Linked DNA regions of Homo sapiens: region 2 is linked to region 1. The links come from fine-mapping of genetic effects on gene expression. Tissue or cell type: whole blood. Region 1 holds a variant in brackets; the other region holds the start of a gene. All regions are shown on one strand. Distances are between the middles of the regions.

Region 1 (8,101 bases):
AGGGAGTTTACTGAGTGTTTAATCTGCAGTGGGCACAGGTCTAAGGGCTTCCTCCCAACCCCTGCCCCAGTTATGAGGTCATCCTGCTAGCACCATGTCCATTTACCCATTTCGTAGTTGGAGATATGAAGGCACAAATAGGTCCCTGAAAGAACCACAGGTCAGCTCTTTGGCCTTTATACTCTGGGGATGGGGATAGAGGCAGACATTAAGGAAGGCAAGAATTAAATATGGTAAACCCAGAGCACTTTGGGAGGCCAAGGTGGGCAGATCACCTGAGGTCAGGAGTTCAAGACCAGCCTGGCCAACATGGTGAAACCCCGTTTCTACTAAAAATACAAAAATTAGCAGGGTGTGGTGCCGTGTGCCTGTAATCCCAGCTACTCGGGACGCTGAGGCAGGTGAATCGCTTGAACCCGGGAGATGGAGGGGGCAGTGAGCTGTGACTGCGTCACTGCACTCCATCCTGGGCAACAGAGTGAGACTCCATCTCAAAAAAAAAAAGAGAGAGAGAGAGAAAGAAAGAAAGAAAGCCAGCCAAGAATTAAATATGATCAATTCCAGGTGAGTGAGTCTCCCAGACAGTGGGAACAGCATGTGCAAAGACCCCGAGGTGGGAATACATAGCTGTACCCAAGGGAAAGCTGGCATGGAACAAGTGAGTGGGGAGAAGAAGAGGGGAATAGACGGCAGCTGCTGGGGGGCCTGGGGATATGGGGAAGGATCTAAGATGGACTCAGATGGGAAAACAGAGAGATTGAGAGATGCAGGAAGAGAGAGGGAGCAAGACTAGGAGAACAAGGAAGAGATAGGGCCTCAGCATCTCAAGGCCTGGCTCCAAGTAGCCAAGGAGGCCTTGTCCTCACCCAAGTCCCTGCACCCCAGACTGCTGATACCCTGCCTGCATCGACAGTGGCAACCACCATGTGCCCAGAAGGATGTCAGTACACGGTAAGTGCTCCAAAAATGTTGAGTGAATGGATGAACACAGGAATGGATGGATGGGTGGGTGTGTGGTAAGTGGATGGGTGGCTGGATGAATAGGTGGATTGGTGGATGGAAGGGTGGATGGTGGACGGATGGGTGGATGGTGGATAGGTGGATGGGTGGATGGATGGGTGGATGGATGGGTGGGTGGGTAGATAGGTGGATGGGTGGATGGTGGATGGATGGGTGGATGAGTGGATGGTGGATGGATGGATTGGTGGGTAGATAGGTGGATGGATGGATGGATGGTGGATGGGTAGATGGTAGATGGATGAGTGGATGGTGGATGGATGGTGGATGGGTAGATGGTAGATGGATGAGTGGATGGTGGATGGATGGTGGATGGGTAGATGGTAGGTGGATGGTGGATGGATGGTGGATGGGTAGATGGTGGATGGATGGGTGGATGGTGAATGGGTGGATGGTGGATACATGGGTGGGTGGGTAGATAGGTGGATGGGTGGATGGATGGGTGGATGGGTGGGTGAGTGGATGGTGGATGGATGGGTCAGTGGGTAGACAGGTGGATGGATGGCTGGTGGATGGTTAGGTGGTGGATGGGTGGACGGTGGACGGATGGTGGATGGGTGGATGGTGAATGGGTGGATGGTGGATGCATGGGTGGGTGGGTAGATGGATGGATGGTGGGTAGATGGATGGATGGTGGATGGGCAGATGGTGGATGGGTAGATGGTGCATGGATGGATGGCCGCTGGGTGGAGGAATGGATGGATGGATGAATGGGTAGATGGTGGATGGATGGGTGGATGATGGACTGATTGGTGGATGATGGATGGGGGATGAGTGGATGGTGGATGGGTGGATAGATGGACAGGTGGGTGGATGGATGGTAGATGGGCAGATGGTAGATGGATGGGTGGATGGTGGATGGATGGGGGATGAGTGGATGGTGGATGAGTGGATGGATGGGTGAGTAGGTAGATGGGCGGATGGCTGATAGAGGGAGGAAGACCTGACACTGAGGTCCGCTCCATGAGAAGCAGCGTCTCCCACCTTCCAGCAGATGACTGAGTGGTGTCTGGTGGAGGAACTTGTCCAGTCCTTCCCGAGGTCTCACCCACCCCTCTGCAGCCTCAGAAGACACCCCCAGGGTGGAGGCTGGAAAGTTGGGGCTGGACAGGGTGCTATGAGCGTAGGCCAAGCAGAGGCGTGCCGGCCGGGTACCAGATGCTGCTACCTGCCTCTGCCGCTGAGTCAGCATCACCATGGCAACTGGCCCTGCCGGATGCTTCTCTGGGCACATCCCCGTCACTGCAGCCACCACCGTCACAGCCGCCTCCTCACAGGGGGCAGGGGGAGCAGCTATTTTTACACAGTTTGTGTGCAGCACTCAGGGGCCAGGGTGCTCACCTTCCCTACACCCCCTCCCCTGTTAGTGTCAGCCCCACCATCTCCTGAAGGGGGCTTGGGAGGATGTTGTCACCTGGGGTGGGCATTGTGAGAACAGATGAGGGACATGTACAAGGGCTGAGTGGCTGGACTGCAGGAGAGAAGAGAGCCAGGGGCGATGATGGGGAAGACTGGCCACAGCAGGGAGCCACAGAGGGTGTGGGGAGGCCAGAGGGGCACTGACGGAGGGCACAACAGGGGTCCCTGTGACCCTGGGCAACCTCCACATCCCCAAAGCCTCCCCTGCTGCTTCTGGAGCATGCATAATGGTAGGAAAAGTGAGGCAGGGAGAGCAGTCACAGGCTCCACCTGGGCTGGCCAAGGACTCAAGCCACCCCCCACCCTCCCTGCTTAGGATCTGGAGGCCCCTGTAATCCTCCATCTCTCCTCACCCTGCGCCACGCCTCCTCCTGGATGTTCCCTTAACACACCTCAAATTCAGCCCGGGTACAGTGGCTTACGCCTGTAATCCCAACACTTTAGGAGGCTGAGGCGGACGAATCACGAGATCAAGAGGTGGAGACCATCCTGGCCAATATGGTGAAACCCTGTCTACTAAAAATACAAAATTAGCTGGGCATCGTGGCGCACGCCTGTAATTCCAGCTACTCGGGAGGCTGAGGCAGAAGAATCGCGTGAACCTGGTAGGTGGAGGTTGCAGTGAGCTGAGATCGCACCACTGTACTCCAGCCTGGGGGACAGAGGGAGACTCCTCTCAAAAAACAAACAAACAAATACCTCAAATTCCTCCCCAGGGCCTTTGCACGTGCTACTCCAGCTTTCAGGAACACCCTTCCCTGGGGCATCCTCATGGTGGCCCTGCTGCTGGTATCATGGATCCTCTGGCCCCCCCCACCCCACACTCCCTCCGCCTGCTGTCATTTGCTTTCTCACCACCTGACTTTATATCATTCACTTCTTTCAGTTGTTCCCGTCCCAAGAATGAGGGGCCACTGAGTCACCTCACAGCACATAGCCCACACTTCGCTTCGCTGGGCTCCTCTCTGATGTTTTCAGGGACAGGGCGGGGACTTGGGTTGACCGATGGCTCCAAAGGCAGGCATGACCTTCCTTTCAGGCCACAAGGCCCTATCAGAAGTCAGCAGTCAGTGCGTGAGCCAGGCCTGGAGGCTAACACCAGGGCCAGGAGTTATTCCACCACAGGTTCCTCCAGGAAGCCGCCTCCTACCGGGAGCCTGCCTGGGTGCCTCCAGGCCACACCCGGAGCTCCACCTC[C/T]CTTACCTGGTTGTCTCTCTGTCTCTGTCTTGCTCCTAGATTTTTTTCCAGCCTCCCTCTCCCGCTGTCTCTCCTTCCAACTCATTTTTTTTTCTCTTGGTTTATTTCCAAGCCACGATATTGCTTTTCTCTTCCGCTATCTCGAAGCTCTGGCCCTCCAATCAGGAGGCCCGATTTAGTACAGCCTCACCCAGAACGTTGGGGCCGTTCCTTTGGCCTCGATATACCCACTCAATAAATGGGCTTGTCCTAGAGCTTAAGGCCTGCCCCTGGGGGGGAGGAAATTCCGGTGGCGGACACCCTTCCCCATCCCCGGTTCAGGGCCCCGGCGGGGAAGGGGTTAACCACGCGCCGTCCCTTCCCCCCAGCTCTGCATTTAATTAGCAGTCCGGTGGGGCGGCCTCGCTGGGCGGGCGGGGGAAAGGGAGAGAGGGGGTGGAGAGGAGATCGGGGGAGACGGGAGGGAGAAGGGGATAAGGAAGAGGGGAGGGGAAGCTGAAGCAGGAAGGGGAGGGAGAGGAGGGGAGTGAGCGACGGGAGGAGAGGAGGGGGCTGGAGAACCAGCCCGGAATTCACAGACAGCCTCGCAGGTGTCCCCGCTCCAGCCTCTTTCTTGGGGTGCAGTCCCCTCCCACACCCCCTTTTCAAGGCCGAACCCAGCGCCCACACTAAATGTCAACTCTCCCCATTATCCGGTTGAGGAAACTGAGGCCATGCAGAGGTGGTGATGTGCCAAGTCGCAGCTCGGGGCAAACGTTTATTCGCAGGTATTTGCGCAATGGAAAACAAGCCCAAACCAGCTCCAGGTCGTCCGGCGACCTGGAGGAGCTGGGAGGGGGCGGTAGTGTGGGACGCGGGCTAGCGGGCTTAGCACCAGCCAGGCCACGGCCGTTCCCGTGCCTCAATTTCCCTCTCTGCACAGAGCCCAGTAAATTGCTTGCAGGGCCGACCGCCCCCGCCCCCATCCCCGCGGCCTCCAGCGCCGCGTGGGGTGGGGGCCGGGCGGCCGAAGCGTCCGCGTCTACGCGGCACCACTTCGCCCTGACGTTGGCGCTGACGCCACCCGCCAGCTCGCGGCGGGGTCCGGCAGCCCCGGGAAGTTAACTCTTCCACTGCCGCCGACAGCTCCGAGACCTCTCCCCCCGGATCCTTTCTCCCCCCCTCCCATTAGGGGAGGGGCCACACGCTGAGGACCCCGCAGCTAGGCGAGGCAGGAGGCCTCCACCAGCCTCCAGGCCTCTGCCCGCGCCGTTCCCTCCGCCTGGAATGCGCCTCCCGCCCCAACCCAACCCTGTGTTTACTGCGACTTCCCTCCCTTCGGCCTGGCCCTGACCCCTCCGGGGCAGGGCGTGTCCGTGTCTGGCTGCTAGTACCGGCCCGGGGTGGGGTCCTCTCTCCCCAACAACTCGCTGTTTCCAACTCAATGTCTTTCCCCCCATTTTTCATTCGAGAACCATCGAAGACCAGGAAACTTACGGACGTCACCTGGCCAGGGACTGAGCAGCGCCTGCCCAGCTCCTAGGGCTCCCCGCCCCCACCCCTGTACGCGGAGATGCCGTCTCCCGGCGGCGGAGAGGACCCCGCAGGCCCCGCCCTTCCCCAGGGGAAGTGAGAATAGGGTGCCCACCCCCGCATTCTCGCCACTTCCTCCCCGGGAGAGCGAGAGGCGAGGAGCAGGGGGGAGGCGGGAGGCGGGAGGAAGGGGATGCGGGGGCAGCGGGAGGCGGGAAGGCGTGGGGTCTCTCCACTATTGCCCCTGCTGTAGCGCTTAAGGGCCCCATGTGCACGGCCTTTGATACCACTCAGACAACTTTGGGGTCCCCCAAAGTTGCTCCTTCCTTGGGGTCCTTTCTGAATCAACGCGGACCCTGCCGGTGCCTCCCCATCCCCGCAGCCTGGGGCAGCGGCCTCTTCACCCCCTGCCGCCTGCCTTGCCTCCAGTTCCATCTACTCCCCATCTGGGGCCCAGATCCCTTCCGCTGGCTGGGGGCCAGGTCCAGCGCCCCGTCTGCACCAGTCCGGACCCCTAAGCTCGCTCCAGGAACCCCCAGTCTTGGTGCAGAAATGCAGCCCACGATGTGCAGGGCCAACTGGCTTCGAATCTGCCTTCCACATACTGAAGCCTTTCTTGGCTGACAGCCTCAGTTTGTCCATCCGAAAAAAGGGGACAAAGCATATCTAGATGGCTCACGCCTGTAATCCCAGCACTCTGGGAGGCCGAGGCGGACGGATTACTTGAGGTCAGGAGTTCCAGACCAGCCTGGCCAACATGGTGAAATCCCGTCTCTACAAAAATACAAAAATTAGCCGGGCGTGGTGGCGCACGCCTGTAATCCCAGCTACTCAGGAGGCTGAGGCAGGAGAATCACTTGAACCCAGGAGGTGGAGGCTGCAGTGAGCCGAGATAGTGCCATTGCACTCCAGCCTGGGCGACAGAGCAAGACTGTGTCTTAAAAAAAAAAAAAAAGAATACCTGGAGAATGGGTTTCCCATCTTGGCAGCATGAATACTTCCACTCATTCATTAATTCACTCATCCATTCATTATTCTACGAACTCATCCATTATGCTACTTATTGCATTCATTCCTTTACTCATTCACTCATTCATTGATTCACACACCACAGACAGCCAGGGAGGGCGGCGGGCCACAGGGGCCCACATCTCAGTGTGGACAGACGTCAGGGGCCCACAGGACCGTGGGTGGGGACAGCCCCAAGGCTGCAAATAAACGTTTGCCCAGAGCTGCATCCTGGCATGTCACCAAACCAAACCGAAGCCTCCCCAGAGAGGCCCCTGTGGGGTCCCCTGCCCAAGAGGCAGCTGCCTGCCACCTCCCCCACCCCTCCCCATTCAGGCACCACCCTGCCCTCAGTCTGTCAGCGGGGAAATGGCTCAGTACCTGGAAAAGCCACGAGTATGTGGTCGGATGCAGGCAAAACCCACACATCATGGTGGGGGGGGGCACCTACAATAATGGGTTGCATGTTAACAGATCAACACACATTCATCAAGCACCTACTGTGTGCTGGGACCCACGGGACTGGAGCATCTGCCAAGTGGGTCCCTGTGGCCCCTCCTGCCCTTCTGCTTGGGGCTTCCCTGCCTTTGATAAGACTCAGACATTCGAAGTCCAGCCCCAGCCCTGAGTGTTCCTGAGGTGGGAATGCCTGACTTTGCTCTCATTTCATAGTTTTTTGGTTTCCTTCTATTTATAGCAAGAGAAACTGGTTTTCCATTCTTGGTGGTGACATGAAGGTTCCCTTTTAAAATGTATTTACTGAAGTAAAAACAGAAAAGGGGGCCAACTTAAAGGAAAATCGTGAGACCAACCTACAGCATGCTTCTCTAAAATGACCTTGCTTCCAGTCCCCCAGAACATCACCTCTGGGCGGTGAGAACCCACCTGCCCAGCACACAGCGGGCACTCAATAGAGCATGGTCGTCGGGCGCAGTGGCTCATGCCTATAATCCCAGAACTTTTGGAGGTTGAGGCAGGCGGATCACTTGAGGTGAGGAGTTCAAGACCAGCCTGGTCAACATGGAGAAACCCCATCTCTACTAAAAATACAAAAATTAGTTGGTGTGGTGGCATGTGCCTGTAATCCCAGCTACTCTGGTGGCTGAGGCACTAGAATTGCTTGAACCTGGGAGGCAGAGATTGCAGTGAGCTGAGAACGTGCCACTGCACACCAGCCTCAGAGACAGAGTGACACTTTGTCTCCAAAAAAAAAAAAAAAAAAAAAAGCATGGTTGAATCGATGAATGATGGTATGTGAGTTTGGCCCAAAACAACCAAGAAACAAAAAACCAAACCAGCTTTTTTTTTTTTTGAGACAGGGTCTCGCTCTGTTGCCCAGGCTGGAGTGCAGTGGCACGATCTCAGCTCACTGCAATCTCTGCCTCCCAGGTTCAAGCGATTCTCCTGCCTCAGCCTCCTGAGTAGCTGGGATTACAGGCATGCGCCACCACACCCGGCTAATTTTTCTATTTTTAGTAGAGATGGGGTTTCACCATGTTGGCCAGGCTGGTCTCGATCTCCTCACCTTGTGATCCGCCCGCCTCAGCCTCCCAACCAGCTAATTTTTCTATCTTTTTGTAGAGATGGGTTCTTGCTATGTTGCCCAGGCTGCTCTTGAACTTCTGGGCTCAGGAGATCCTCCTGTCTCTGCCTCTCAAAGAGCTGGGATTATAAGCATGAGCCACCCTGCTCAGACTACAAACCAATTTATCTTTTTTTTTTTTTTTTTTTTTTTTTTGAGACAGAGTCTCACTCTGTCACCCAGGCTGGAGTTCAGTGGTGCGATCTTGGCTCACTGCAAGCTCCGCCTCCCGGGTTCACACCATTCTCCTGCCTCAGCCTCCCCAGTAGCTGGGACTACAGGTACCTGCCCACCACGCCTGGCTAATTTTTTTTTTGTATTTTTAGTAGAGACAGGTTTTCACCGTGTTAGCCAGGATGGTCTCGA
Region 2 (8,101 bases), 31 kb before region 1:
TGTTGCCTAGGCTGGAGTGCGGTGGTGCAATCTGGTCTCACTGCAGCCTCCACCTCCCTAGTTCAAGCAATTCTCCCACCTCAGCCTCCTGAGTAGCTGGGATTACAGGCGCACCACCACACCCAGCTAATTTTTGTATTTTTTTTTTTTTTCAGTAGAGACAGGGTTTCCACCATGTTGGCCAGGCTGGTCCTGAACCTGAACTTTCCTGAACTTTCGGCCTCCCAAAGTGCTGGGATTACAGGCATGAGCCACCATGCCTGGCCTATTTTAAAATTTTTAGTAGAGACGTAGGTCTTATTATGTTGCCCAGTCTGGTCTGGAACTTCTGGCTCAAGTGATCTCCTCCCACCTCGGCGTCCCAAAGTGCTGGGATTATACGTGTGAGCCACTGCGCCTGGCCTGGCTTCCTCTTATAAGGCTCCCTGGGCTTTCTCAGACCTCCAGAGTCCACTCCACCTGGATGTGGTGCCAGTCAGAAGGATCAGGGAATTGGGATTTCGAACTGCTGGGCTCAAACGATCATCCTGCCTCGGCCTCCTGAGTAGCTGGGACTACAGGCGTGCTCCGCCATGCCCAGCAGGAAAATCTTTGAGAAGTTGAACAAGGGTTCCCCAGTTCAGCTCTGAGAGGCATAGGGTCCTTTCAGCCAGAAGTTCCTCACCCTGGACTTGGTAAGAAAAGGCTCTCAGGGCAGTGCTGAGACTCAGGAGGCTGGGATACAAGGAGTCACTTTATGAGGTCCCCTATTGCTCATTTGTAGGCCTGAAAGTCAAGGCATGTGGCCAGGGGATGGAACCTTTGATTGGCACCTAGATAAGCCTCTTCTAGGAATTCAGGTTATAGTCCTGCTTGCAAGTGTATGTAACTATAGGCATGTCATTGGCCGGGCACAGTGGTTCACTCCTGCAATCCCAGCGCTTTGGGAGGCCGAGGCAGGTGGATCACCCGAGGTCAGGAGTTTGAGACCAGCCTGGCCAACATGGTGAAACCCCGTCTCTACTAAAAATACAAAAATTAGCTGTGTGTGGTGGTGCACACCTGTAATCCCAGCTACTTGGGAGGCTGAGGCAGGAGAATCGCTTGAACCCAGGAGGTGGAGGTTGCAGTGAGCCGAGATCGCGCCACTGTACTCCAGCCTGAGTGACAGAATGAGACTCTGTTTCAAAAAAAAAAAAAAAAAAAAACTATAGGCATGTCACTGTGGAGAAGTAAACTACTCAAATAAATGCCTATGTTTAAAGCTACCACAGCTGATACTTGATGTAATGAGTAGTAGCCCCTAAAAATATATATCCCAGCTGGGCATGGTGGCTCATGCCTATAATCCTGGCACTTTGGGAGGCCAAGGTGGGAGGATCTCTTGAGCCCAGGAGTTGGAGGCTAGCACGGTGAGGGCAGGGCAACAAGCAGACCCCCATCTCTACAAAATGAATAAATAAATAAATTAAATTAATAAATAAGCTGGGCGTGGCGGTGACACCTGTGTGCAGTCTCAGCTACTCAGAGGCTGAGATGGGAGGATCACTTGACCCCAGGAAGTTGCGGATGCAATAAGCCATATGGCACCACTATACTCCAACCTGGGCAAGAGGGACGCAGTCGTAAAAAAATTTACACACACACACACACACGTATATCCAAATCCTAACCTGCTGGTAGCTGTGAATGTGACTGTAATTGAAATAGGGTCTTTGCAACTTGATATACAGTGAGGTTCATTTGTTTGTTTCCATTTTTAGGGATTTCTTTTGATTTTTCCTTTTGACTTTTATTTTTAATTATGCTTCCAAAGTTGAAACTAGACAATAAGGTACACTGAAAGAAGTCTGGCTTTCATTCTTATGATTTCATCTTGTTCCCTTATTCTCCCAGGTTACTTTTTTTTTTTTTTTTTTTTTTTTGAGATGGAGTCTTGCTCTGTCACCCAGGCTGGAGTGCAATGGCATGCACTGTAACCTCCTCCTAACCGGGTTCAAGTGATTCTCCTGCCTCAGCCTTCTGAGTAGCTGGGACTACAGGCACGCGCCACCACGCCCAGATAATTTTTGTATTTTTATAGAGATGGGGTTTTACCATGTTGGCCAGGCTGGTCTCGAACTCATGACCTCAGGTGATCCACCTGCCTCAGCCTCCCAAAATGCTGGGATTAAAGTGTGAGACACCGTGCCTGGCCTATATTTTGGTTCATGCTTCTTTTGTTTGTTTGTTTTGAGACAGTGTGTTGCTCTGTCACCCAGGCTGGAGTGCAGAGGCAGGATCACAGCTTACTGCAACCTCTGCCTCCTAGGCTCAAGCAGTTCTCCCTGCTCAGCCTCCTGAGTAGCTGAGACTTCATGCACAGTCACCACACTTGGCTACTTGTTTGCATTTTTTGTAGATTCAGGGTTTTGCTGCTGTATTTCCCAGGCTGGTCTGGAACTCCTGGGCTCAAGTGGTCCAGCCACCTCAGCCTCTCAGAGTGCTGGGATTACAGGCATGGGCCACCGCTCCTGGCCTGGTTCGTACTTTTTACGTTTCTTTTTTTTTTTTTTTTTGAGACAGAGTCTCACTCTGTCGCCCAGGCTGCAGTGCAGTGGCACGTTCTCGGCTCACTGCAACCTCTACCTCCCGGGGTCAAGCAATTCTCCTGCCTCAGCCCCCAGAGTAGCTGGGATTACAGGTGCCCGCCACCATGCCCAGATAATTTTTTTGTATTTTTAGTAGAGATGGGGTTTCACCATATTGGCCAGGCTGGTCTCAAACTCCTGACCTCAGGTGATCTGCCCACCGCGGCCTCCCAAAGTGCTGCAATTACAGGCATGAGCCACTGAGCCTGGCCTTTATGTTTCTTATTAAAAATATAAGCAAATTTGGTTCACGTGCTTGGTGTGGTTAAAAAAAAAAAATATATATATATATATATATACACACACACATGCAAATATATATACACATACACATGCATGTATTTCTCTTTTTGCACACAAAAGAGGACATATTGTAAAAACTGTTCTCTACCTTGGTTTTTTTCACTTAAGATATCCAGACACCATTCAATGTCAGTATATGAAGATTGTCTTCATTCCTTTTTATAGCTGTATTACTCTATTATTTGGTCGCATTGGGTTTTTTTCAGTCTTTTGATATTATGAATAATGTCAATAAATAGCATCAGTCATTTAAAAACGAGGCTGGGCGTGGTGACTCATGCCTGTAATCCCAGCACTTTGGGAGGCCAAGGTGGAAGGATCACCTGAGGTCAGGAGTTCGAGGCCACCTCCTGGCCAACATGGCAAAACCCCGTCTCTGCTAAAAATACAAAAATTAGCTGGGCATTGTGGCATGTGCCTGTAATCCTAGCCACTCGGGTGGCTGAGGCAGAAGAATCCCTTGAACCCAGGAGGGAGGGGTTGCAGTGAGCTGAGATCGCACCACTGCACTGCAGCCTGGGTGATAGAATGAGACTCCATCTCAAAAAAAAAAGAACAGGGTCTTCGCAGATGTAATTAAGGATCTTGAGATGACATTATCCTGAAATTTATGGTGGACTTAATAAGAGAAAGGAGTGTCCTTTACAAGAAAAAGGAGCGGCCGGGCTCGGTGGCTCACGCCTGTAATCCCAGCACTTTGGGAGGCAGAGGAGGGAGGATTGCTTGACCCCAGGAGTTCGAGACCAGCCTGGACAACATAGGGAGACCCTGTCTCTACTACAAAAAAAAAAAAGAAAAAAAAAAGGAGAGATACATTTGAGACTCAGAGACACACAGAGAAGGCCAAGTGACGACAAAGGCAGAACGCGGAAGGCTGCATCTACAAGCCAAGAACTCCAAGGATTCCCAGCAGCCACCAGAACCCAGGAGAGAGGCATAGGACACACAGATTGTCCTCAGAGCCTCCAGAGGGAGCCAACTGTGCTGACAACCTCACTTCATTATTCTGATCTCTTGAATTGTGAGAAAATCACGTTCTGTTGTTTTAAACCTCGCAGTGTGTGGGCATTTGTTACAGCAGGCCCCAGAAAACTAATAGCATTCGCCTATTTACTTTGTTTACTGTCTGTCTCCCTGAGGGCCACGAATTTTGTGTTTTGTTCATTCTGTGAGCAGAAACAGGCACAGAGTAGGTAATAAGTACTTAATATGTGCCAGACGCTGTTTTAAGTGCTTTTACATGGTTTCATTCATTTCATCCTTACAGTAAGCAACGTTTTGGAGCAGACACTACTATTTACAGGGAGCAAACTGAGGCCCCGAGGGTCGTGGTCAGGATTCCAACCTATTAAATGATGTTCCCTGGATAATTACAGAATCAGAAAACTAGGAGTCGGAAGGGCAACATCAGGCACGGCCCAATCACCACGAAGCCTCGATTTCTCTCTCTCTACTGCAAACGAAAGGCATTAACTGGCTTTGCCCACAGCGTGGAGCCCAGGAGACCGACGAAGGTTTCACCTGCGCACGCATTTCCTCACAATGCACCCCGCGCCGGCGCGCGTTGCTCCGCCTCCTTTTGCATTACAAGCCGCGGCACTTTACGGCTCTCGTCCTCGTTCCTCCGGCGGGAACACGGCCCGCCCCGCCCTTTCGCCCAGCGGGCCCCGCCCTACTCCGCGTGGATTGGTTGACCGCCCTTCGAGCCCGGTGCTGACTGGCTTGCGTCTCTGCCACTTTCTTTCAGCTTAGTGGCGCGCGGCGCGGCGACGACCGCCGGGAGCGTGTGCAGCGGCGGCGGCGGAAGTGGCCGGCGAGCCCGGTCCCCGCCGGCACCATGGTGAGGGCAGGGCAACTGCGGGGTCTCACCGGGAGGCGGGAACAGCAGTCGTTGGGATCCCTGCGGGCGGGCGCTGTGGGCTTGGTTGGCGCGGGGCGAACGTAAGGTCCGAGCCTCGAGTCCCGCCCCCCGGCACGAGGCTGGGAAACTGAGGCCGGAGACTGCAGGTGGCTCTATCACGTTCGTGTCTGGGATTTAGGGTTGCACGGACTTGTATCCACAGTACAGTGGCCTCGCCTTAGTTAGTTTTCCCAGTTTGCAGGTGGGGAAACTGAAGTAAAAAAAAAAAAGGTGGGGATCCGCCAAATGCAGCAGAGAGTTTTTGGGCAGGGAAGGGGTCCCTTACGCTTCGGGCCCAGTCTGACCTCCCTGATTGAAAACTAGAGTGCTGGGAAGTAGGGGGCCAGTCTGAGTTGTGAAACTTAGTTTTAGGAATTTCAGAGCTTGCAAGATGCTAGCAGCACAGCCTCCTAGGCCTCTTGGTTTCTGGCTGAAAAGCAGGCCTGGTGCTGGGGTGTGGTGTTTCTCCTTGGGTCACATAGCATGTCATTCCAGCGGAAGGGGGCGTTTTGAGCTAGGGGTGGACAAAGTACATCCTCCCAATACAAAGAAGGAAAAATTGCGGCCCAGGTCTCTGCAGGGCCCATTGTTTATGATTCTGGAAGTTCTGGATCTGGGCTAGAAAGTGCCCGTGTCCCCCACTGTGCAGATCGGAAAAGGAATTCAGAGCTGGGAGTTTCCTGGCCCATCAGCTTCTGGTCCTTCTTTTTTCAATGAGAGAAACCAAGGCCCTTGTTGGGGATGTGACTTCCAGACTCTGTGAGACAGTGGGAGATTCAGTAACCAGGAGGGTCCCCCAGGGGTGGCTGCATCAGAACTGTGGATTAGTGAGAACTCTCCCTAAATCCGGCTGGTCAGTGTGTAACCACCCAATGGGTTCACCTTGCCTGTCTTCCTAGACAGATTTATCAAGACAGGGGAATTGCAGTGGAGAAAGAGTATTTCACACAGAGCCAGCTATGCAGGAGACCAGAGTTTTATTATTGCTCAAATCAGTCTCCGCTGAGCATTAGGGGATCCGAGTTTTGAAAGATAATTTGGCGGGTAGGGGCTCAGGAAGTGGGGAGTGCTGATTGGTTGGAGCTTCCTGAGGTCGATGGAGTCATCGACGGGAGTGTTGAAGTGAGGTTTTCTTGCTGTCTTCTGTTCCTGGGTGGGATCGCAGGACTGGTTGAGCCAGATTACTGGTCTGGGTAGTGTCAGCTGATCCGTCAAGTACGGGGTCTGCAAAATATCTCAAGCACTGATCTTAGATTTTATAATAGTGATGTTATCCCAAGGAGCAATTTGGGGAGTTTCAGACTCTTGCAGCCAGAGGCTGAAGTTACCTAAATGGTAATTTCTAATCTTGTAGCTTATTTGTTAGTCCTACAAAGGCAGACTGGTCCCCAGGCAAGAAGAGGGTCTTTTCGGGAAAGGGCTATTACCAATTTTGTTCCAGAGTCAAACTATAAACTAAATCCCTTCCCAAGGTTAGTTTGGCCTATACCTAGGAATAAGCAAAGATGGCGTAAAGGTTAGAAGCACAATGGAGTCGGTTAGGTCTGATCTCTTTTCACTGTCATAATTTCCCGCTACAATTTTTGCAAAGGCGATTTCAAGTGCAAGGATTCAGAGAGCCTGTCCCTCTCTGCGGTGTACTTAGAGGGCAGAGTTGGCATGTAAGACTGGGCAGAGCTGGAAGGATCCATCCCTGTGTTAAGTTTTGTGGGAGCAGGATCTTCGTTTTTCTTCCGACTAGATTCCCAGTATGTAGAACGGTGCGTGGGCAAAGTGTGAACTCATTCATTCAGCCCCTTCCCACCTTCTGAACATCCAGAGTCCTGGCTGTCCAGCTGTTTCCTGGAGGAGTAGCCGAGAATGGACAAGCCATCACAGGATACACACTTCCAGTTCCCTGTCGTCAGGGCAGGGCCAGAAGGAGTGGCCTAGGTTAGCAGCGGGGATGGGCAGTCCTGGACAGCTTCCTGAATTAGGAGGCACTGGGTTTAGGTCCTCGTGGATCTAGACCTGAGAACCAGATTCCAGATGCTCCAAGAAAGCCCAGAGAAAGGAATTCTCTTTTCTGAATTTTCTTGTGACCTTCCATAAACCAGGGTGGGGCCTCTCCTATCACACTTGGCACTTTTTTTCTTTTTCTATTTCATTTTATTTATTTTTTTGAGACAGAGTCTTGTTCTGTCGCCCAGGCTGAAGTGCAGTGGTGTAATCTCAGCTCACTGCAACCTCCACCTCTCCGAGAGTGATTCTCCTACCTCAGCCTCCCAAGTAGCTGTGATTACAGGCACGCACCACCACACCTGGATAATTTTTGTATTTTCAGTAGAGATCAGGTTTCACTATGTTGGCCAGGCTAGTCTTGAACCCCTGAGCTCAGGTGATCCACCCACCTCGGCCTCTCAAAGTGCTGGGATTACAGGCGTGAGCCACTGCACTCTAGACTTTTTTTGTTTTTCAGAGCTGAGATCTCACTCTCATCCAGGCTGGAGTGCAGTGGCACAATCACTACAGCCTCAACCTCACTGGCCCGTGATCCTCCCACCTGACCTCAGCCTCCCAAGTAGCTGGGACCACAGGCATGCATCACTAAACCTGGCTAATTTCTAGATTTTTTGTAGAGACAGAATCTTTTGTGTTGCCCAAGCTGGTCTCATACTCCTGGGCTCAAGCGATCCTCCCACCTCAGTCTCCCAAAGTGCTGTGATTGCAGGCACAAGCCACTGTGCCCAGCCTCACCTGGCACTTTGATGTATCTTCTTTTAAGATTTTGAGGATCCACCCCTTCCTCTGACCTCTCTCCAACAGAGTTTGGAGATGAGGATGTAGGAGAAATCAAGATATATGGTCACAGGCCCAGGCCATTGCAGCCTGGGAGGGCCTGGGAGTCAGGCAGCTCCCTGTCCCGCAGCCACTCCTTCCCTTACCTGTGGGGTGGGGCGAGTGTTCTGCCTTCCCTGCATGCCTCCCTGGGTAGTGTGTGCATTTTTCTTGTGTATTTATTCAGCAAATATTTACCGAGTCCCTCTCATGTGCCTGGCCTTGTGCTTGGCCCTGGACAAAGTCCACACCCACTTTGAGTGTTCCAGTCTAGCGAGGGACACAGGTAATAAACAAGGTAATTAAAGACTGGCTGCATCCTATGATGGAAACAAACACCCATGAGGCAGAGGGTGGCCATTAAAAGGGCCTGGCCAAAGGAGGTGACGTTTCAGCAGCCTGGGGAAGGTCACCCCAGGCAGAGGCAATAGCAGAAGCAAAGGTCAGGTGGCAGGAATGGGTGTGGCGGCCA

What was found. PIP is the estimated chance that this variant, and not a neighbour inherited with it, causes the effect.
Region 2: it holds the start of LSM4, and the variant in region 1 is fine-mapped to the expression of LSM4 in whole blood (TOPMed, PIP above 0.99).

The regions. Positions count from the first base shown.
Region 1 is chr19:18,288,871-18,296,971 of GRCh38, reverse strand. It overlaps LOC124904653 (a long non-coding RNA gene), which reads left to right and starts at 4,129. Exons shown (of 2, transcript XR_007067155.1): 1 at 4,129-4,400; 2 at 5,085-6,382. RefSeq lists silencers at 2,148-2,227, 2,087-2,269, 3,354-3,556, 4,511-4,680, 5,131-5,560 and 1 more, enhancers at 2,506-3,145, 3,701-3,780, 3,146-3,784, 3,785-4,424, 4,425-5,063 and 1 more and cis regulatory regions at 3,190-5,745, 6,325-6,693. The variant C/T (reference allele first, on the strand shown) is at 3,634.
Region 2 is chr19:18,319,669-18,327,769 of GRCh38, reverse strand. It overlaps LSM4 (LSM4 homolog, U6 small nuclear RNA and mRNA degradation associated), which reads left to right and starts at 4,694. Exons shown (of 5, transcript NM_012321.5): 1 at 4,694-4,752. The coding sequence starts at 4,750. LOC105372300 (a long non-coding RNA gene) reads right to left here. Exons shown (of 2, transcript XR_007067157.1): 2 at 5,773-6,036. RefSeq lists enhancers at 3,553-4,155, 4,354-4,573 and a silencer at 4,634-4,813.